Linked DNA regions of Homo sapiens. The protein of the gene in region 1 interacts with the protein of each later gene in a pairwise test. Each region holds a gene or a part of one and is shown on either strand. Other genes may lie near its edges. The genes, in order: REEP1, CLDN10 and CSRP1.

Region 1 (7,106 bases):
AAGTAAGAAAATTGAAGCATGGGGAGAAGGGAGTGGGCAAGTAAGATGGAATCAGTGGGGAGAAGGACATTTTAAATGCATACCATCAAGGTGTAGACTGTTGAGACACCTGGCTTCCTTGAAACCACTGCAAAGAGGGAAATACAATTATTAAGAGATTCAGTCCACTGTGCAACAGCCAGCTAGAGGCGTGGAAGCTTGTCTTATTTAGAATGTTTATTCTCACTGGTTCTGAGAGTAAGGCAAATATTATAGACAACACTCTTGGCAGAAATGCTCAGCGGACACAGTGACTAGGAGATGTCTTATCTTCTTAGGAGGTTCTCTCTGTAGCTTCTTCCTGAGGCTATTCTGGCTCCCTCACTGCCCACACTGGCCTCTTTTGCTCCCAGCCTCTGCTGAGCTGAGCACTTGTTTCTATTCCTGCTTGGATATCTGGGTTGTCCTTGAACCATCACTCCTACTGGGCTGGAGGGTCATTTCTTTTCTACCCTGCAATCCTTGCAGTGGAGAACATGCACAAAGCCATTTTGGTTTCAGTCCTGAGATTATAGTGATGATGGTGATTTTGGTAAGTGTGAGTTCATTGCTCAGCCTCAGTGAATCCAGACTGGATAACTAGCCTGGGTTGTTAGATGCCTGAGGATCTCACGGTGACTTTGGGCCACCTTCTGACACCCACAACCATCAGTACAGGGAAAGCCCTGGACCTGGATGTGGAGGGTACAGCATATGCAGAGGCACAGTCTCGAACCGGTACCCACCCCACTTCCATGTCATGGAGTTGGCTGCTGGGGTGGAGCTGGCCAGGCTGCTTCTGCAGTTTTTGCCTTGGTCTGAGGGCTTTTGGTCTTTTTTCCCTCCTGCCAGGCAGGAGGTATCTGTGTCCAGAAGGAATTTCCTGGTTTGGTTAATGGGGGTGTCAAGCTCTGACTTGGGACTAGAGCTGAGCTCTCTGAGATGACTTCAGGATTCTATTTAGTTTAGTTGATGAGTGGCCACTGTGTGCCCAGCCCTGGGTCAGGTGCTCAGAGAGACTGAGGGAGGATCAGCCATGGCCCCCCAGTCTCAGGATGCCTTCTGTTGGCTGAGGCAATGAGACTGACATGAGGACCAGGGCACCCAACACAAGCTGTGTGGCACAGCCTCCAAGCACTGTCGGGTCTCAGAGTGGGGAGGCCAGGGAGGGTCAGAGTATTCAGCGAGGGCTCCCTGGAGTCACTGGTCTTTGTGCTCAACAGGATGCAGCTGATTAGGACAGAGGAAGGGAGCAGAGGACAAACTAAGCCCAGAGTAAATAAGCTGAGGGAAGTGCAGAGTAGAAATAAAATAATAATAGTAATTTAAAAATCAAAGGAACATCAGTGATCTCAGGACTTTACTTACTAAGGCCCAGTCTGAACCAATCACACCCCAGCCTAAAATTCAGCTTTGCATGTTGTGCTGCTTCCTGCTGGCTGTTGGGGAGCACAGCAGTGGTAACTGGTAAAGCTGCCCAAGATTAGGGTTCAGTTGTCTGTTTTTTTACTCCACGCCTGGTGGTGGTATAGTCTAGCAAGTCCACTGTTGATGGAGAGAGAGCACATTCGGTGGCTGAATATGTTCTTAGGAGCAGGGTGTCTCAAGAAGAGCTGTGGTTTCTATCTGGAGGCCTCACGGTGATTGGACCAGATGACTTGAGAACCCCTTAGTCTTGCATTCTGTGATTCTAGGTAAAAACAATAGATGCAGCATAGAAAAATGTGTGTGTGTGATACCAGATAAGCTGGGTAGGGGCAGAAGATATTTTACATCTCAACTAAGAACCGCCTAGCAGATGACATGGAATATGTATTAGCATTTAACATTTAAAAAATACTGTGCGTTCAATGAGATGAATTAATTCTGAAGCTTTTCCCGCAGATGTATTCAAGGCAGACTGAAACAGGAATCTTGCTATCATTTTTTTTGGCAGAGGCATCTGTCAGATTCTCCTTCCTTAGGTTTCTCTGCTTCTCTAGGACTGGGCCTTCGCAAAAAAAAAAACAAACAAAAAAACTATATAGCTTTGTTTAAGGTTATCACTTAAGGCCTCCTGGCATTTTATATCCTGTCTCTTACAGGATGCTTGGAATTGAATATGCAAGTATAATATACAATGTCAACATGGCTTGTATGTACAACATAGAAACTGCTCTCCCACCCCACCCCACATCACTGCTGCCATCCTCTCTAGAGGAGATTCTTTCCCTGAGCATTCACCTGGTGTGGGATCACAGGACTGAGCTGCAGGGATTGATGTGTCTCAGTTAAAGCCGCTTCTTTCTTCACCCAGGGAAGTGATGCCCCCTTAGTAAATCTACTGAATTACTCAGAATTCAGTAGATTCTGAGTCTGTGGTTGTTTCTGTGCACAGTGCCTGGAGATTCACACAACTGCACTTTCACAATCCCAGATCCCCTGTAAGGAGGCCCCCAAAACATCAGTGCTTCCTCAGACCGAGGGGCCTCAGCTGTCCTCACAGGCCTGGTTTGCTGTGCTGTGTGCCTAACCTTGCCCTTCCCTGCTCCCTGCACTGATGCTTCCTTGCTATACCTTGTCTCATCTGTGTAGATTGTAAATGGACATTAAGTGGTTGAGGGAGATGTGAATGAGGGTGGTATGAAGGCATGGGAGCCCCACCAGGTCCAAAACCCATTGGCGTTTTCTGACGACGAGGAGGAAGACCTGCTGGATTTCATGTACAAGTATAAAGCACCTCGAAGGATGGAATTGCCCCTGGAGGTACACAGTGTCTGGGGCTGTGGGTTGGAGTGTGTTTGTCCAAAGGCTATGCCCTGGAGATTGGGGGTCCTGGGAGCAGCATCTCTTGGGGCACCAACATCTCCTCAATACCTGGGGTGGAAAGATCTCCTTCCATCAAACAAGCAGAACCAGTCACTGGATAGCATCCAGCTACTTGCCAAGGAGAGGAAATCCTATTAATTTCATTTAGAAATAGGAGCGTGAGCCGGGTGCAGTGGCTTATGCCTGTAATCCCAGCACTTTGGGAGGCCGAGGCAGGTGGATCACCTGAGGTCAGGAGTTCGAGACCAGCCTGGCCAACATGGCAAAACCCCTTATCTACTGAAAATACAAAAATTAGCCGGGTGTAGTGGCGCGCACCTGTAGTCCCAGCTGCTTGGGAAACTGAGGCAGGAGACTCGCTTGAACCCAGGAGGAGGAGGTTGCAGTGAGACTGCACTGCTGCACTCCAGCCGGGATGACACAGCGAGACTCCTTCTCAAAAAAAAAAAAAAAAAGAAAAGAAAAACAAATAGGAGAGTGGTAAAGTATCTAGGTCTTTATTGTTTTGTTTTGGTTTTTCCAGGTATTAACAACTACCACTCTAAGTTGACGTACAAGTGAAAAACAACCCAAATTGACTGTTTTGGGGGAAGAAAACTCAGAATGTGTTATTTGAAAAGTTTTTATAAATAAGAACAAGGCTTGTTCATCGCTGTATCTCCAAGACACAGCATATAGTGCCTGGTATAAAGTAGCTATTCATGAAATGTTAGTGAAGGGGTATAGCCCTTTAGGGTTACCAAAACCAATACCCTTGACATATATGCTATTTTCAGTTGTAGGATGTGGATGGAGTTCTGGCAGCAGGAGGGCTGAGCCTGGAGCCTCCTGGGCCTTGCTCTGTGATGTGGGTAGGGAGTCACCAGTCATGAGCACAGGTGCAGGGACCCCAGTCTTTCTCTCTGCTTCCTAAGGTCTCCTCTCCTATTCCCCATCTGCTGAGTATCACGGCCTGAGAGGCCATCTGAAGCAAATAGGAAGTCTCCGTACAGACCCTTGTGAGACTTATATGGGGAGATGCCTTGAAATGTTCCCTTCTGCAGACACTGAGCAGCCTAGCATTCTTATTTGTTAGGACTGTAATTATGACCACCTCCATGTGCAGTTCATCAGGTTCCTTTGCAAGGTGAGGCACACATGCATCCCTTTTAAAGTTAGAGGGTTTGGGAAAGGATGTTCTGGGCTTGGACACTGCTGGAGGAGTCTGGCCTGGGCAATCTGGCCTGGGCAGCCTCCTGATGGGGAGAGGAGCCCAGCCTAAAGAATTCTAAGGCCCAAGGGTTTGTGCTGTTTTGCTTTTGTTTATTAAAGCTGCACAAACTGCTTTACTGTTTACAGTTCACCAGCCTGCCAAGAGGCAGATTACTATAAAGGTGGGTTCCGTTGTTTCCGTTTTCAGTGTCTGTCCAGAGGTGGCTGGTAAGCATTTCCTAGTGGTAAGGCTGTAGCATGAGGACTCTATGAGAGGGCCTGAGTCTTGTTTTCTGGCTCATTCACTTCCTGCCTTGTATGTGCCTGCCCAGCACTGAGCCACTTACCAGGAAATGGTGGTGAATGCGACATGGGCCTGCCCTCAGGAAGTCCCCAGTCTGGTGGGGAGAGAGTGAGCAGGGCCCCCACACACTCCCTTCCCACTGGGTGCAAAGTCCTCTGCTGGGGGACATGTACAAAACATGAGAGAACAAAGGAGGTGACGATGCCTGGTTGTGCATGGCTGGGCAGTGGCAGGAGGGGCTCCGGGAAACCTTTGCAGAAGTGACTTTTGAGCTGGGTCCTCAAGAGGCCTAGAAATATGCAAGACAGAGGAGGGAGGGAAGGGCTTCCAGTCAGAAGGAATAGAGGCATGAATGGGCACAGTGTAGAGAAAGAAGTTCTCTGTGTATACAGAGAAGTGGACAGACACGGGGGCCAAGGGTAGGTTGGGGCCAGTTGTGTGAACCCCCTCAAGTGCTGTGCCAGAAAATGTTCCCTTCACTTTCATTGAAATAGGAACTCCTCCTGTGATCTGTGTATCCCATGGAAGGAGGGGTCTCTTGAGAGTCATTTGTGGGAGAGATGAGGTGGAGCCCTTCATATAAGTTGAGCATCCCTAATCGAAAAATCTGAAATTCTTTGAGTGTGGACAAGACGCACAAAGGTCATGCTCATAGGAGCATTTTGAATCTCAGATTTTCAGATTGGGGTGCTCAATTGGAATGTATATGCAAACATCCCAAAATCTGAAAAAAAAAAAAAAAAAATCTGAAATCCCAAACACTTCTGACTCCAGGCATTTCCGGATAAGGGATATTCAACCTGTACTTCAAGGTGGTGTTTGCCTTTGTGGTGTGGTGTGCTGTACATTAAGAGGTTTCTCATCCAGAAAGGGGACTGGAAATTTGATGATGGAAATTTGAGGCATGTACCAAAACACATTAGGCTGGTTCCCAAAGGAAATAACAAAAGCAAAGGAAGCATGCGGAGGTGTCTCTTTCTGCTGAATCATTTAAGATAATTTTGCTCCTCAGGCAGAAACAAGAAAGATGTGTCATTCTGCACAACCGTTCCCTTGGGAGATTGAGGAGCATAATTTAAGAGGGAGGCATCAGCCTCTCAAAGGGCTCAGCTTCATGCGATATGTGGGATGGGACTCTGATGATTGCTTCCTGTTGCGGAGATTCAGGGAGACCCCAGCCCTAGCCAGCTGCATTTGGCCAAAGGAGCTGGAAGTCTCAACACAATGCCTTCCAGGTGCTGACCTCAAAAGATCCCACATTTACACCAAACTGAGGGACACCTTTCTGTTTTCTCTACCAGGCACCGCCTAGAATCCTTCGATCTCGCTTCAGGAAGAAAAGTACCTCATCCTCGGCCACCGAAACCACGTGAGTGAGATGAGCCAACAGCACCGGATCCACAGAATGTTTCTTCTCTGCCTTAAAGAGCTATTCACTAATAACATAGAAATCCGCAAGCTGGGTGTGCTTTGAGTGTGCAGCCTCACAAACATGGCCTTTTCTCTCTCCCCTTCCACTTTTAAGGATTTATTTTTTTCCCCCTTTTCTTTATTTTGCTGGGGAGAGGCTAAAGGGAAAGGTAGTAGGGGCGGGGGTGGTGACCTTTAAGTCTTCTGAGGTTGGTAATTTTCCACAATTGGATTGTCATTATAGACAGCAGTGTGTTTTTTAGAAAGATAAGAGAATCACCCCTATGCTGCTGAGATGTACATTTGTAATTTATCTGTTGCATACTTAGTTTTTAGTCCTGTAAATGCAAACACAGCATTTTTTACAACTTTCTTTGTTCTTGGTACTTATACTTTGAACTATGATGTACATATTTATGGCTTTTGGCTTTTAATATAATGGACTTGCAAGGGCTGCCAGAGGTTCTGATATGTAAGAAAACTGCAAAAACAAATATAGACAAATATTTTGATTCTAGAGAACGTCTCAGATGTGCTTATAAAGCTTCCAAATACAACTCCAGTAAGACATCCCTTTCCCTGCAGGAGTGTGGTCTATATTCTTTAGATAGTTGTTTAGTCAAAAGACCAGACAAGTTACAAACTAAGAGAAACAATATTTCACAACACAGTAAAGTGTGATGAGAGGTCAGGGGAACATCCCAGTAAAAGAGAAGAGTCACAGGAAGCTCATCTCCTCCCTGGATTCTGGATTAGGAGCTTCTGAATCTTTTCCAGGGATAGGCAGGTAGCTCACTCTTGGTGCAATTTCTTGAGGATGGGAACATGTAGAGCTGCTGGAAGGAGTAATTCTGTGCTTGACAAAGGACGATTTCTCCTTTATCGTGACCAGTGCTGCCGATTTCCTGACAGAGGAGCTTACACTCTGAGCACCTTGTTTTAGCGAACTCTAGCAAAACTTGTTTAGCTTAGCAAAAACAAACACACAAAAAACTGAGAACTCTGCTGTTTCAGATATGCCATAACATACATCTGAAACACATGTGTAACAATCAAAATGGTGGGCTCTAGAATGGTTTTGGAGCTCGAGATCTTCATGGGTTAGACTTGCTGGTCAGACCCAGGAGCACCTGTGGCTCACACCTTCTGTTCCCCTCCTGGCCTGTGCAGAATGTAAACAGCAGACTCATACTCAATGGGCACTACAGGCCTTATCAGACGTTTTATACAAGCCTGGATTGCTTAGTAGGGGAATAAGGCATTCTCTGAGGGGGCTTTCCACTTAGATTGAGAATTTTATTTGAAAAGAATCTGGTTTAAATGGCATTGTGGTCCGAGGTAGCTGCTCTCCCCACTGAGAGCTGAGCCGAAATAT
Region 2 (7,952 bases), on another chromosome or scaffold:
GGGGAATCAACTCCCCTCCACAGGAAAACACAGTTGCATGATTTAACCCTCCAAGATGTTATTCTGAGAGATACAGAAAAGTAAGTTTGTTTTGCGGTAAGAAATGCCATCTTAAGCCACAGAAGGAAAGTCATCAAAAAAACAGGCTGATAAATATGATTCTATTACAAATTTCAAAGTCCTGTGTGAGAAAAGGCATCATAAATTTAAAAGATGAACAATGGTGTGAGATTGCAACCTACATAACAAATCAAGGACTGACAAATCATCGAAACCACAAAGAAACAACAGAACCATGGGCCTAAGATATGGATGCCAATTCACAAAAGAGAAAAAAAAACGGTCAGTGAGTTTTGACCATTTTTATAACCAGTGATTTTGACCACGGCAATAAGGGAAATGCCAACTAAAATGATAAGATGGCTGGGCGCGGTGGCGCACACCTGTAATCCCGGCACTTTGGGAGGCCGAGGAGGGTGGATGACCTGAGTTCAGGAGTTCGCGATCAGCCTAACATGGTGAAACCCTGTCTCTACTAAATGCAAAAAAAATTAGCCGGGCATGGTGGCACATGCCTGTAATCCCAGCTACTTGGGAGGCTGAGACAGGAGAATCACTTGTACCTGGGAGGCGGAGGTTGCAGTCGGCTGAGATTGTGCCACTGCACTCCAGCCTAGGCAACAAGAGCAAAACTCCGTCTCAAAAAAAAAAAAAAAAAAAACTGGATTAACACAGAGTGGTGAGAATGTGGAGAAGCAGGTATTCTCATACACTGTCAGTGGAAAGTAATTTGACAGTATGAACTGAATATTAAAATGCACGTGTATTCTACTGCTCTTACGATACCATTTCTCAGTGGAATGGAGTCTACAGAAATACACACACATACAAAGAGGTGAATATAAGATTTTCAGTAAAGCACCACCAACAAAGAAAAGCTGGAAAAGGTCCAATGTCCACAATGGATCTATGGTTAACTAAGCCATTTTATGCAGTCTAATGAATATACCATGCAGCAGTTACACAGAGTCAAGTCACTTCTATTAAGTACTGACTTGGAAAAATACATTGATTTTAAAGTGTTGTACAACAGTAGGTAGTGTCATGCCATTTATGTTTTTAAAAGTCATTTTTTAGTCACATGAGCACACAGGAAGGCCATTTTGCAAGCTGGATGGCATAAAAATGTCACTCCTCTCTGTTCTCCTCCCAGCTAACCAGGACAACTATTCCTACTTCCTCTTCACTCCCGGCCCGATCTGCCCCCAAACAGGTATGGTACCACCTCCACTCTCACTGCAGACATGTAGGAGAAAACTTTATTATTCTGCACTTAATAATATTCATAGAGCATTCATTTCCTTCTCTCCCTTGTCCCCCAACTGTCCTACAGAAGGAAGCGTACCTATCTGGCACACTATCTCAGAGAACAATAGAGTTACAACAGAAGAGTGTTCAGAGGACAGTAACACATTGCTGACTATAAATCACAGGAACAAGAGAATGCCTGTTCATCTACCTGGATGCGTGCTCTACAAACCACAGGAAATTCAACGGTAATGCTGGGGAATAAACACTGTTCCGGCTGCTTATTTTACCGAACAGGACACGGACCCGGGCGCCACCCTTCTAAAACTAGATGCGTATTCCTTATACGGAGGTTCCATCAAATACCACGTTGAGCAACAGTTTGCTCTTCGTGGCAAACCCCATCTTAGAGGAATCAACTATTTTCTTTCATTTACCCAGCTATGTAAACAAAACCTGCAAGTGCGGTAATAAAAGAAAAAAACACCTCAAATCTAGAAATATGTAATGTAAATAACTCCTCTTAAGTTTCTGCCAGGATTCGTTTGCTGTAAAATCCTGGAAGCAACGGGCCTAGAACTTGAGCAATCAATGGGACCGGGCTGACATCGGCTGTTGTCTTGAAACTCAACAGAGCCAGAGTTCTGTGTGAATATCCACCAGCTGCTACCAGCATAAGGCCTGACTAACCAGAGCAACGCAGGTGAACCTCCACAAAGGAACAACCCAGGACAGCAGCAGGCACCGGGGACTCGGATGCAGAACTGGTCAGCTCCCGGCGCCACGCTCTCACGGCCCAAGATTCCCTACCCTCTGCGGACTCATCGCGGCACCGCAAGGGCTATTATTTTCCTAAAACTCGGAGGAAGTGTTTGTAGTGTTGCCTAGGCAGACAAGTTTGTAGAAGCTCTTTAAAGGGAAACAATAACAACAACAAATTCTGCAATATGTTTTCCCGCTTCCAACCTCTCAACCCCCACCCCCGCCTACTTTTAAAAGAACCAACGAAATGGCTCAAGGGAGGTCAGGACAAACGGATTTGGCTTGCAATGACACCATTTTTATCAGAACCCAGCCTTCGGGGAACGTAGGGGAGGGAGGTGGAGGAGACAAGCCCCTGCAGCATGAACTCTGGGTCCCAGCGGTCCCCAAGATATGGGGGGTGGGGGAGGGCAGCCGCTTCCTTGACTCTCAGGACCGCAAAGCTTCCCCATCCCCCGACGCCTGGGAGTCACCAACCCGGGCCTGTCTGCGTGTCCCCCCTCCCGGGGTCCCAGGCTCGAACAGGCGCCCCGCGAGACAGCCATCAGGAGAGGGCGGGCACCAGGAGCGTCCCTGGCTCCCTAAGGCCCTGTTGGGAGAGACGGGTCGGGCCTCAGAGGAGTCCAGTCTAGGGGTCCCGCTGGGGGTATTGGGGGCGAGAGGGCGCCTAGCGGGCTGGCCATCAAGGAAGGAGGGCTGAGGGCGGGGGCCGCGGGGATGCAGACCGTCCAGCGCCAGCATGGAGGGGAAGTCCTTGCAGTTGGAGACGCCCGTGGAGTCGGTAACGCACGCCTTCCACAGGTTGGCCCAATAGGTGGCGGTTGTGATGACCGTGCCGTCGATGGTAGACACCTTCCAGTAGTCGGTGGGCAGCGTGGAGGACACCAGTACCCAGCCTGAGATGGAGACCATGAAGGCGATGATCTCCGAAGCCGTGCTAGCCATGCCGCCGGCTGCAGCCGCGCTCGCTCTCCGGCTCCCACTCTGCGCCGCGACCCCCGCACTCCCAACCCCGGGGCTCCGCCTCCCGCCTCCGCCTCCGCCCACCGTCCCCGCCCACCACCCCGCCCAGCGGACCCGGCGCCAGGGGGCGCACGCGACCCCTCACACCCATGCCCTGTCCCTTGAGGGGCCTCAGAGGGCTCGCGGTCGCCCCCCGGGTTCTCCATCTGCAGCTGGCCCGCGCCCGCGTGCGGGAGGAAGGCCGGCCTGCGCTCCCCTGAGCCAAAGGGCCGCGGAGAAGGGCTCGCTTGTTGGAGCGGCTCAGGTTCAGACTGGCAACCGGGTGTGGACAACCTGCTGCGCCCCCACCTCACCACCCCCACCCAGCCCTACCCAAGGCAAATAGCTTGGCTTCCTGACTACCTTGTAGAAGCAGAGCAGGAAAAGCCTTTTGCATGCCCTGAAAGGACACGGTTTGGTAACTCAGCCCTCGGTTTGCTGAACTCTAAAGGTTTGCGTGCCACGCTTGTTTGGGTGACTCTGTTTGACTTGTCAAGGAGGGATCATTGCAGATTCTGGGCTGGAAACCGGCCTTGCCCTCAAAACTCTGCAGTTCTTTTTGGCCTGGTGCTATGCGGAAAGTCATGGCAAAACGGTGCGTGGCACAGGCCTAAAGTCAAGATAGCAGCAGATGGGGCATCCTGACGATCTTGATCTTGCTGGTGTACTCATACTAATGCACTACGCAGAGGGCATTTGTTCAACACATTTTCCCTGTAGGTCCCTTCCAGCTTCCAGGTCTAGAGGCTATTCTATGAAAGGATGCTGTTATCCCAGTCAAAACTGCTATCTTGTCTTTTATTTTTTTTTAAACCACCTCCATCTCTCACGCCTAATTGAAATATAAACTCATTCATTCCTTCATCCCTTCATTGCTGTCTCAAGGTAAACATAAAGATCAAGGTGTACTTCTGGCTCCTGAGGCCACAAATCTGGGCATAAATGAGAGAACAAGGACACGGGTTATTATTTGTCCACTTAAAGGTTCTTGCAGTTTTGTTATGAGCTTCCAGGTTTCACTTGTTGCCAAAAGTAAGGAAAGGTCTAAAACCTATCAATCAGTCTGCTGTGATAAATCTCGTGCTAACCCTCTGTGTCACTATCTTTAGGCAGAAACACTCTGGTTCAATGTGAAGAATTTCTTAATTTCCCTTTGTCACTTTTTTTTTTTAACCAAATGGGTGCCCAGTGAAATTAGAGGCGACAAGGTGACTGGAGAAGAGAGGAAGCTGGACATAGAATCATCAAAACTTAGATTGGAAGAATCACTGTAGACCAGCAGGACACGCTCCACACTCAAAACAATGTTCCTGTCTATTTCTAGAGATAATGTTTAGCCCATGCTCCACCCTTCAGGACCAGCAGTTCAGTGCATGGCAACGTATCTATTCTGTTTTTCTTCATGTTGTTTTGACAGCCCTTTAAAAAAGCTTTTCTTCCTATTGAGCCCCAAATCTGTCTCTCTTCAATGTCTACCCGAATGTTGTAATCTGTGCTCTGAGAACACGAAGTAAGTCCTACTCTTGTTGCAGCCGTGCAGCGGCTGGCAGGTAGTGGGCTTCTCTGTGCTTAATGGTCCCATGGCTTTCGTGAATGGGTACAAGGGTGACAATGCAGACATGGTTACCCTACTGTTCTGCTCTGAACCCCAGCTTGTCCTGATGTATCATGTTAGGTTCACTGGTAAACTAAACTTAAAAACTGAGTTTAAGAAGTATCTCCCTGGCTGGGCGCAGTGGCTCACACCTGTAATCCCAGCACTTTGGGAGGCCGAGGCGGGCGGATCATGAAGTCAGGAGATCGAGACTATCCTGGCTAACACGGTGAAATCCCGTCTCTACTAAAAATACAAAAAAAAAAAAAAAAAAAAAAAAAAGTATCTTCCTAACCTCTTCCTTCTCATTCTCCTTGCTATGCAAATCAGTCACCTTTGAGCAATGACTACAAAGCATCCTCTATTCTTTTGTATGGCTTGCCTTTTTAAAGTGTTTTATCATCTGTTTTTTTGCCCTCCAGCATATTTCCACTATTATTTCTATGCCATATTCCTTCCTGAATAATCTGCCTATTTCTGATCCAATTACTATTTGAAAAACACAAAACCCACTAACCATAACATTTCTTACTGATTTTTCTAAAATTACAAATTACACAAATTTAATACTTTATTTCCTGGCCTTGTTCGATAGTCCCTTTGTTTACCGTGGCTCGCCTATGGTAGATACTCACTAAATTGATTATTTCTTTGTTTTTACTAGACAAAACCCTGACTTACTTTTGCCACAAAACAAGTGTAGTGCTGTGACCTTTAAGACTCAAGCACTTCCTAATTTATCACCTAGTTGCTATGAAGTCCACTGTTTGGATCCAAAGGCACATTGTTTGTTTTAAAGAAAGAACTTTGAAGAATGGTTTGGTGTTTTAAACCAGTCTGCAAAGTTTATTTAACACATAATGTAGCTCTACCCATTATACTTCAAAAATCCATAAGCCCAGATTACCGTTGCAACATAGCATCCGGAAGAAACAAATTCTGAATTCCTGCTTGGAACACTCTTCTCTCTGCCGCATCGCCACACCAGTGAAGCCAGAATCTCTGGGGGTGGCCTTGGTAGCAGTATTTCCAAAACTTCTAATGTGGACTCAGGCTGAGAACCACAGCTCTGACCAGTTGAGCTCTGTGTATGTGTGTATAAACAGTTAATTTAGCATAACGGATGGTGGTATGCATCACAGGAAGAAAGAATATTAAACTCATTGTTGAATACTTTGAAAAAAGAAATATTCTATTACTGTAGAGATTGCAACACACAATTTCAACTTAAAAGGGATGGGAAACACCACAAACAATCCATAAATTAAAACTTAAATGGCAGCATTATTAGTTCCTTTGGCAGCTAAAACAGACTAGGGTCGTCATGCCTGTGGACTTGGTTAATTTTCCTTTCTCCTTTCTATGAGGTTGGACAACCCTAAACTCTTTTCTTTATCTTCCCTAGGATGTACTACATAGTTACTGTGGAAAGCTGTATGTTGGAGGCCATGAGTTCCTGACCAAAGAATGAAAAATGTTAACTTTCTTTAATACCTAGATAATATTATGTAATGAATCAAACATTTTTATTTTAGAATGTCTTATATCTTATGCTTCTCAAGCTAGTTTTGTCAGGAGAATTCTAAAGATATTATGGAGTAGCATATAATCTAAAAAAAGAATGTCCAGAAAATAAAAATGGACCAAATAGAGATTTTTGAAAAGAAGTAATGGATAAATGTCTTGTTTTGCTTTAAGATTATACAGTTCCCAAATAACCTTTGCAGTTAATCTGCAAGCCGATTTACAGAGTACTTTCGACTGATAAATGCTTCCTTATTTTCTTTAGGATTCAGTTCACTGAAATTTCATAAGAGACTATTCTTAATTTAAATATAAAAGTGAATACATCAAAAAAGGTTGCCTCCTCTAAATTATTCAAAGTAACATCTTAGTTAACAATAGTTTAGTCTTTACAAAAAGCTATAGATCTTTTCCAATATGAAAACTACTAACTGATCTATAAATTTGACCCGAAGACATACAATGCCCTCAAACATATTCTGAGCCTTTCTACTTTTGAGGTCTAAGTCACTGGAATTAGCATTGAAAATTATTTCTTTGGCTTATTATGGTTATTAAAGAGAAATAGAGGATCCCCCCCACCCTGGGGTTGTTCAATAGGAGTGAAAACCAGTTTAGCCAACTAAACAGGAGATTTGCAGAAATTCCTTACTTGAGATTCAGTACACCTACCAAGCAACGCAGGTGTGCCTTTCAATAGCTCAAGGATTTTCTAAGCATCAGATTTGGTTTCAGTATACATTAGCTCCTTCCTAGATTCCAGTGAGGTGGCGTGCTGCTAATCAGGTGGGAAGAAACTGAATTCCTGATGATACGGTATTAACTAAAAAAAACAACTGCCCAGGAGCCAAGTATTGTTACATCACATTAAAGAAGACATTAATGCCGGTACCAAGATATTAAAAGAGCATATCTGTGTTCTTTTTCCTTCCATTTTCCCTAACATTTCATTTATCTTAATGCTTATGCAAATCCAATGATATTTGTAATCTACTTAGCATGAAAGCTACAGAGTGATAGGAATAGTTACAGAATGAACAGTTATTCTCACCATTGCATCACCATTCATATATAAATATATATCTATAATTTTTTTTGCAAATTATAACTATAAAAACAGTTGCCTTATTCTGTCATTTGGCAACCTGTGAAGTTGTACTCCATCAGAATATTTCTATGGGCCTATTACAAGTCAGTGCCATATACCTTGTGGATTTGTTTTTCATGCATTCATTTGAAACACACTCATTCCCAATTCTAAATTATCTTAGTAGACTCCTCTTGAGCCCCTGAAGGGGAGGGGTAAGGTTTGGGCCCCAGCAGGAATACCCTTCGAGCCTGGAATTACTCTCACTCTGTGATGCTAGAACATTCCAGGGCTTGTAGACAGGTTGGGTACATTTTGTTTGTCCATAAGCACTTGATGAATATCAATATAACCTCCCACCCAGGTCGGGGCAGTATGTTAATTTATATGTTTTGGGCAAGTGATTTTATGTCTCTGAGTTACAGCTCCCTCATTTGTAAAACAGAGGAGTTATTCTGGATATCTTCCGAGACCACTTTCAACTCCAAAAACCCCTGAGTCTAGGATTCCTAATGAACTTAGTCATTCACAGATAACATCAAGGAGAGGAGAGTAGCAGTTTTCCTTTGGTGTCTTTACTGTTTTATTCCCACTTTCTGCCTCCCTCCTTTGTTAAATTTAAAGGTGGCGTCTGTATAGATGTGTATGTGAGAGGCAGTGCATGGAGAAAATCTA
Region 3 (7,076 bases), on another chromosome or scaffold:
AAAGGAAATGTAGAGGAGCAAAGAAAAATAATAAGGTAGTGACTGAGCATACGTTTTGGAAACAGTCAGCTTATGTTTGAATGGCAGCTCCACAACTGATCAGCTGTGATCCTGAGCAAGTTTCTTACTACCTCTGAGCCTCAGTTTCTCCATTTGTAAAATGGAGAGCATCAGTAGCTACCTCATAAATTGTCCAAGATAACACATGTGAAGTATTTCTCACACTGTCTGGTACACTGCAAGTGCAGATATCTGGTTATCCTTATCTTAAGGAGAGGCCAACTCTAACACTTATCGTTCAGGTTTGTATCTCTTTTGATATTTGACAATATGCCCTGAGTAATGCCAAATGGCTGACTTGGAGGAAAAAGTCTTATTCTCACTAGCACCTCTTTGGATCCCAAAATATTTAACGCATGTGTCTTCATCTAGCAAGCCAACGTTTCACAATAAGCTAGGCTTACATACATATTTAAAACTTTAACAACCTGCCAGAAAAGCCTTCCCAATTTGCTTCCCACACCAGGGATGGACAGTGAATTAAAAACTATGTTGCTAGGCGCAGTGGGTCATGCCTGTAATCCCAGCACTTTGGGAGGCTGAGATGGTGGTGGGGACAGGGAGGGGATCACTTGAGGCCAGGAGTTCGAGACCAGACTGGCCAATATAGTGAGACGCTGTCTCCAAAAAAAAAAAAAACACCAGGCCGGGCGCAGTGGCTCATGCCTGTAATCCCAACACTTTGGGAGGCCGAGGCAGGTGGATCACCTGAGGTCAGGAGTTCAAAAACAGCCTGGCCAACATGGCGAAATGCCGTCTCTACTAAAAATACAAACAATTAGCTGGGCATATTGGCAGACACCTGTAATCCCAGCTACTTGGAAGGCTGAGGCAGGAGAATCGCTTGAACCCAGGAGGCAGAGGTTGCAGTGAGCCAATGTCACGCCATTGCACTCCAGCCTGGGTGACAGAGCAAGACTGCCTCAAAACAAAAACACACAAAAAAGCCCAAAAAAAACCTACGCCTTTTTTCTCTCACCTGCTTGTCAATCTACCCAAGTGGAAAAACTGGCTAGTAACTATTTGCAAGGTTTATGAGTATCCCGTAGGCCAACTCAGCTGAAAGACCATTGCTACCCCACTCATTCATCAAATGTTTGCTGATCACTCAGTCAAGTGTCACTACACTCCCAGGCTGCAACTCTGGCCCAGTCAGGACTCACTAGCTCCAGAGGCAGATGCACATGTGTGCAATTAAAAGAGCAAACACCTGGGCCAGGAAGGCAGGTGCTAAGACAGACCACAGGCAAATAGGCCACAGCACCCCTGTTTTTCCCATTTTATTAGCAGGCCAATTGCAGAGTTGATGGGCCTTCTCTTTAGTTTCTCTCCTGCTTCTTCTTCCCCATACCCTCCATCCTGGGCATCTCAGGCCTTGCAGACAGTTCTCTCCTCCCTCTCCTCTAACCCACACTACACCCTCTGCAGGATAAACTTCCTTCCTCGTCTGACTGCCTCCGCCCCGGATATCCTCTCCAAGGCAAAGAGTCATTCACTGGAAGACCGTGAGCAGGAGGAGGCTGGATTTAGGAAACAATGGGTAAAAGCTGCCCTCCAGCAGCTGAGGGCTGAGGACAGTCTCTCTCAAAAGAGGTAGCCAGAAACCAGCTGGAGAGTCAGGAGGCAGCAGTTGAGTGAGAGCAGTTGAGGGGAGGCTCAGTACCCATCCCCAAATCCCACCTGGGGAAAATCCCCAACATGCAGTCTGAGAGGACAGAGGGAGACAACCAGCACCTCCAGCCTCCTTAGCTTCTGGGAGGAAGGCAAGGGATGAGGGGAGGACAAGAAAGACAGTAACTGAGAGATCACTCCTGTGTTGGAGGTTCTGTGTAATATGCTCCCCAAGTAGCATCCCTGAAAGAAACTGAGACATTGAGAAGTTAAATAGTTTGTCCAAGGAAACCTGCGCGTTAAGTGGCAAATCCAAGAGTCAAAACTCTGCCTTCCAAACAATCCCACCAAGACTCCAAGCCACCTCTTCATGATATACTGATATACTTTCTACCAGGGCCCAGTGGATTTCCTCGGTGCCACTGTGATAGTATCCCAGCGTGGGGAGAGCCTGCCCATTCATTCACTCTCAGGGAGCAGCTGGTGGGTGGCTGGAGCCCAGGGCTCTAGGCAGAGCCTGAGCCCACTATTGCTCCAGCCGATTCCTGGGTCCTGGTTAGTTCACAACAGCACCAGAACCAGAAGCATGCAAAATATTCTCTAGTCTGTACCAGTAGATACAATACCTGCCTCAGAGGGCTGATTGTTAGCTAACACATTGTGATTTGCTTTAAATGTGCTCAATACCAGCCCCTTTATCACTTCCCAGCTTTCAAGGACTGAGGCCACAAAACACTGACTGCAGGCTCTTTCAGGTTTCAGTAACCATCACCACCTAGCACCAAGATTTGGAGTGGAGAGGTTTCCATGCAGTTATTTCACAAGAGGGAAAACTCACACCTGCGCTCAGGGACACAGATGTCCAAGGTCAGGCCCAGATGTTTGCCCCACCCCGCCCGCGGGCATTTTCTCCCCAGCAGGAGGGTGAGGGAGGGGGTGGCACGGATGCCCTCATCTCTCTGCCATACAATGAGCGTCAGTGGCGCGCAGAATCGCCGATTGTTCTGCCCGACTTGCAGGCGGTTGCGGGGAGCCGGGTCGCCCTGGGTCACGCACACGCGGAAGTCAACTGTGTCCAGGAAGCCCAGGAAGGCCCGGGATGGGGACGGACCTAGTGCCTCCAGAAAAGAGCAGCACTGCCCGGGCTAACTGCGGTCACTTCTCACAGTTCCCCGCCTGCGACAGCCCCGGGGCTGCGGCGGGGCTGGCAAGACCGGGAGGCGCTGAGTGCGTGCCCAGGCGCCCCTCCGCGGCGGGCAGAGCCGCGCGACTCAGGGCGCACTCACCTGGCAGCTGGCTCGGCGGCGCAGGGGCGGCAGGCGCTCTCGGAAGTGGCGGCTGGGTGCGCCCGGCCTGCGCGCCGTTTTGTTCCGCTCCGCGGAAGGCGTGTCCCGGGCCACGCCAACCAGTGGGCTTTGCACACTGCACCACTCCAGGGCTGATGTCATGGCGCGAAGCCCGGCGGTGCTGCCCTCCTAGGCCCCGGGAAGGCCGGCCGGCAGGGGCGGGGGCAGGAGTCGCCGACTCTGGGGGTGCTCCGAGCTCGTGCTGCGGTCCCACTGTGCGCCCTGTCGCCGCCACCGCGGAAAACGTCTTGCACGTGCGAGGGGCATTTCAGGAGTTTCCTGTCTGTCAGGTGAGAAGGCGGAGATATGACCTTAGAGGTCAGACCCATGATAAACTTGAGCCCCTAACGAAAGGGTGTCTCGAATTTACTTGTCCTGGTGGCAGAGGGTGAGGGACACATTTTGGGCGCCAGGGTAAGACAGACCCTTCCAGGGCAGGTCTGATTCTGCCCATCCACTCACTAGCTGGGCCCTGGGCCTAGACAGCCCTTCTGGGTTCAGGGTCATCTGTGAACGGCGTGTAATCTACAGGGATGTGAGGGGCTAAAAGGAGATCCGGTAGGACCCGCAGACCTTCAGCAGCACCCGGCATGTAATAGACACTCAATAAATGTAACTCCCCCCTCCAACAGCTCTTGCCCCTCAGTTTTTCCCAGTCTTCCCTGCTACCCTAAGGACAACACCTGGAAAAAGGTGTTCTCCCGCAAAAGCAGCAGTTCTGAAAAGTGGGTGCCTCCATAGAGGCTTTTCTCTGGGGCTCCAACCTTCAGTAGGACAGACACAGGCTCAGGCCACTCAAGCTGCCCCTGGGGCAGTTTCCAGGGGACATTCTGTCCACACCTCCTCACCCAGTCCCCAGCCCTTCCTGAGTGCCCCGTGCAGGCATTTCAGGGAGCAGAGAAGCTCACAGCCTCCAGCTGGTCACCCTACACCCCAGGTGGCCCATAGATGCAGCTGCTATGTCTTCCACCCTGGGCAGGTGTCAAGGGTTCAGGCCCCAACCGGCTTCACTTAAAGCCCTGGTTTGCTGAATCAACTTTTTGCCAGGAATAAAGTTAAGCATCTTATGATCTAGAAAATGAAGTATTTGGCCAGGCACTGTGGCTCACGCCTGTAATCCCAACACTTTGGGAGGCCGAGGCAGGCAGATTGCTTAAACCCAGGAGTTCGAGACCTGGTGAAACCCTGTTTCTACAAAAAAATTAAAAAAATTAGCCAGGCGTGGTGGTGTGTGCCTGTAATCCAAGCTACTCGAGAGGCTGAGGTGGAAGGATCACTTGAACTCAGGAGGCAGAGGTTGCAGTGAGCCAAGATTGCACCACTGCACTCCAGCCTGGGCGACAGAGCAAGAGTGTTTCTCAAAAAAAAAAGTGTTTATCTAGGTTTTTCTTGCTTTCTACCATAAGTAACATCTTTCCTTTGGCCAGGTCCATCCTATAAACAAGGCCCTCCAAGATTAAAATGTCTAGAAGCACACAACCAGTGTTTCTTGCAGATTGGGCCATCTTCATCTGACCCAACCAAGATGAAGGAGGAGAAACCAGAAGAATTTCTGGTCACGGCTGCACTGACTAAGCAATAGTTAAACAGGTCCATTAAACTGCAGAACCACCATCAGTGTCAGAGACCAAGGGCTTCCGCCCAAAGATGGCGATCCCATGGGATTTCCCCCTCTCCTTTCAATTCTCAGTATCTTGGAGAGATGAGCCTCGGAGTTTTGCCCAGGATTTTACAAAAGGGCAAACTCCTACATTACCTTCTTTGGTCTGGGTTTGTCCTCTCTGGAGTCATGGGACTGTTGATAGATTTCCCTGTGAGGACATGCCAACCTGTGCTGTGAAATGGCTTTAGGGTAGATCCAGAAAAAGAAGAGCAGTCACTGCAGTCACACTTGGATTTCTCCCAGATCTTAAAGCACCTTATAAACAGAATGGCTGTACAATGTGTCATCTAAACCAGAATGCTTTGGATAGTAAGTGGTATGTGGTAGTATTCGTAACTACACTAAGGCAACAGGACTATCTCAGGCAGTCCAGGGCAGATGGTCACCCCTCTTTTCCACCCAAAGACTGTCAGGTCACTTGTCTTAGGAGCTGTCTACGCAGAGCTACAGATGAAGCCAAGTAGGACCTGCCTTGTTTGGTGTTTTTCCAGAACCTCTCACCTTCTGACTATATTATTCTCCCAGCCTGCTGCCAGTTACTTGGGCTTGGTCTTAGATAGCACATTTGCAGATAAAGAAGACTTGAGGGATGAGGAAGGGCTTTGGGATTGAGTTGAGTCAAAGGTGATGCTGGGGTTACCCACCATGCAAACAGGAACAAGCCTGATGTTGAAATGACAGAAAAATCAGTAAACATCATCAATACTTGGGACATCCTTAAGGCAGAGATTCTCATTCTGCAGAGGTTCTCATTCTGGCTGACCTCATTTATATAACCATATCTAGACTGGCCCGAGCTGGTCAGCAGCACCCACATCTGCAGAGACAATGCAGTCAGAGCTCATCACCAATAAATTATCTGCTAGGGGTTCTAGAAGGAGGCTTGGCACACTTAGGGGCTTACCTGCTTCTCAGGACTCTCACAAATGTCTAACCTTTTCAGTATCTTTATGTTCTCTCTGTGCACTCTATTTCCCAACACTTCTGGGTTGGTATTTGATGGCTGCTAGGAATGAAGTGGGGCCTGTTACAGGCAGGAAGTAGGGCCCCTGTCCTCCAGCTTCCAACTTTGTCTGCTGCTTCCTCTGGCATCTTTTCTTCTCTTTCCTCCCTCATCAGCATCCTGATGCTACATCTTCTCTCTCCTCTCCTGTGGTGAAACCCTTCTTTTCCGCATTGATCCCAAGTGAAGAGGACCTGAGTGTGAGGCTGAGGAAAGAGTAAGGGAATGTGTCTGGCTTAGCTCTGCTCATCATCCCAGAGAAATTAGAGATCCAGTCTGGGCTGGAGATCTTCTTGTCCATCCTTCCATCCATCTGTCCATCCATCCATTCATTCATTCACCCATCCATCCATTTGTTCATCCATCTGTCTCTCCATCCATCCATCCCTCCCTCCATCCATCCATCCATCCATCCGTCCATCCACCTGTTCATCCATGTATCCATCCAACCATTCACTCAGAAGACATTTATTGGGGCCCCACTCTGTGCTGGTCTCTAGGTTCTGGGAATACAAGGAAGCCTATAATTTGGATCCTGACCTCAAGAAGTTTACTCATCTAATGGTCTAAAAAAAGAAAAAAAAAATCCAGCCCTAAACTTGCAGTTTGAGTCTCAGCTCTGTCATCTATGATTTAAAATACTAATGATGGCTGGCGCAGTGGCTCATGCCTTAATCCCAGCACTTTGGGAGGCCAAGGCCAGCAGATCACTTGAGGTCAGGAGTTCAAGACCAGCCTGGTCAACATGGTGAAACCCCATTTCTACTAAAAATAGAAAAATTAGCCGGGTATGGTGGCATGTGCCTGTAATCCCAACTACTGTGGAAGCTGAGACAAGAGAATCGCTTGAACCTGGGAGGTGGAGGTTGCAGTGAGGCGAGATCCAACCACTGCACTCCAGCCTGGGTGACAGAGTGAAACTGTGTCTCAAAAAAACAAAAAACAAATAAAATACTGTTGATAATGAGGAATAATTATAATTATTAAGCATTTACTACCTGTCAGGTACTTTACACAATTGTCCCCTTTAATCTTCGCAGTAGCTGTATGAAGTAAGGACTATTTTTACCCCCTGCTTTGCATGTGAGGAGACCAGGGCTTACAGCAGTAGCTAACTTAGTAGCTTTGTGACCATGGCCTAGGCCTCAGTTTTCCTCATGTGTGAAATGGGAGGTTGGACTAACTCAGTATTCTCCAAAATTTCCACTGAGGTACCTCTGACAGCAAAGAAGTAAATGTAAGGAACCCACAGTGTTGTCAGAATCAATCCACTCCCAGTCCTTGAAGTCTTGGGGTTTATTGCAAAAATTTATTTGAATTTTGCATTCTCCTTGGCACATAACTGTATTTGTCTTCATAAAAAGATAATGTTTAAAATGACTCACTGGCCAGG

Evidence for each region.
Region 2: the proteins of REEP1 (region 1) and CLDN10 interact in binary tests that used the Homo sapiens proteins (3 or more experiments, as listed by UniProt).
Region 3: the proteins of REEP1 (region 1) and CSRP1 interact in binary tests that used the Homo sapiens proteins (3 or more experiments, as listed by UniProt).

Annotation. Positions count from the first base shown.
Region 1 is NC_000002.12:86,215,627-86,222,732, reverse strand, and holds part of REEP1 (receptor expression-enhancing protein 1), read left to right. Parts: intron 1-2,611; coding exon 2,612-2,763; intron 2,764-5,622; coding exon 5,623-5,694; 3' UTR 5,695-7,106.
Region 2 is NC_000013.11:95,547,817-95,555,768, reverse strand, and holds the start of CLDN10 (claudin-10), read right to left. Parts: upstream 3,050-7,952; 5' UTR 3,016-3,049; coding exon 2,796-3,015; exon of another isoform or gene 1-2,795. UniProt on the Homo sapiens protein: Forms paracellular channels: polymerizes in tight junction strands with cation- and anion-selective channels through the strands, conveying epithelial permeability in a process known as paracellular tight junction permeability.
Region 3 is NC_000001.11:201,504,113-201,511,188, forward strand, and holds the start of CSRP1 (cysteine and glycine-rich protein 1), read right to left. Parts: upstream 3,012-7,076; 5' UTR 2,958-3,011; intron 2,728-2,957; exon of another isoform or gene 2,512-2,727; intron 1-2,511. UniProt on the Homo sapiens protein: Could play a role in neuronal development.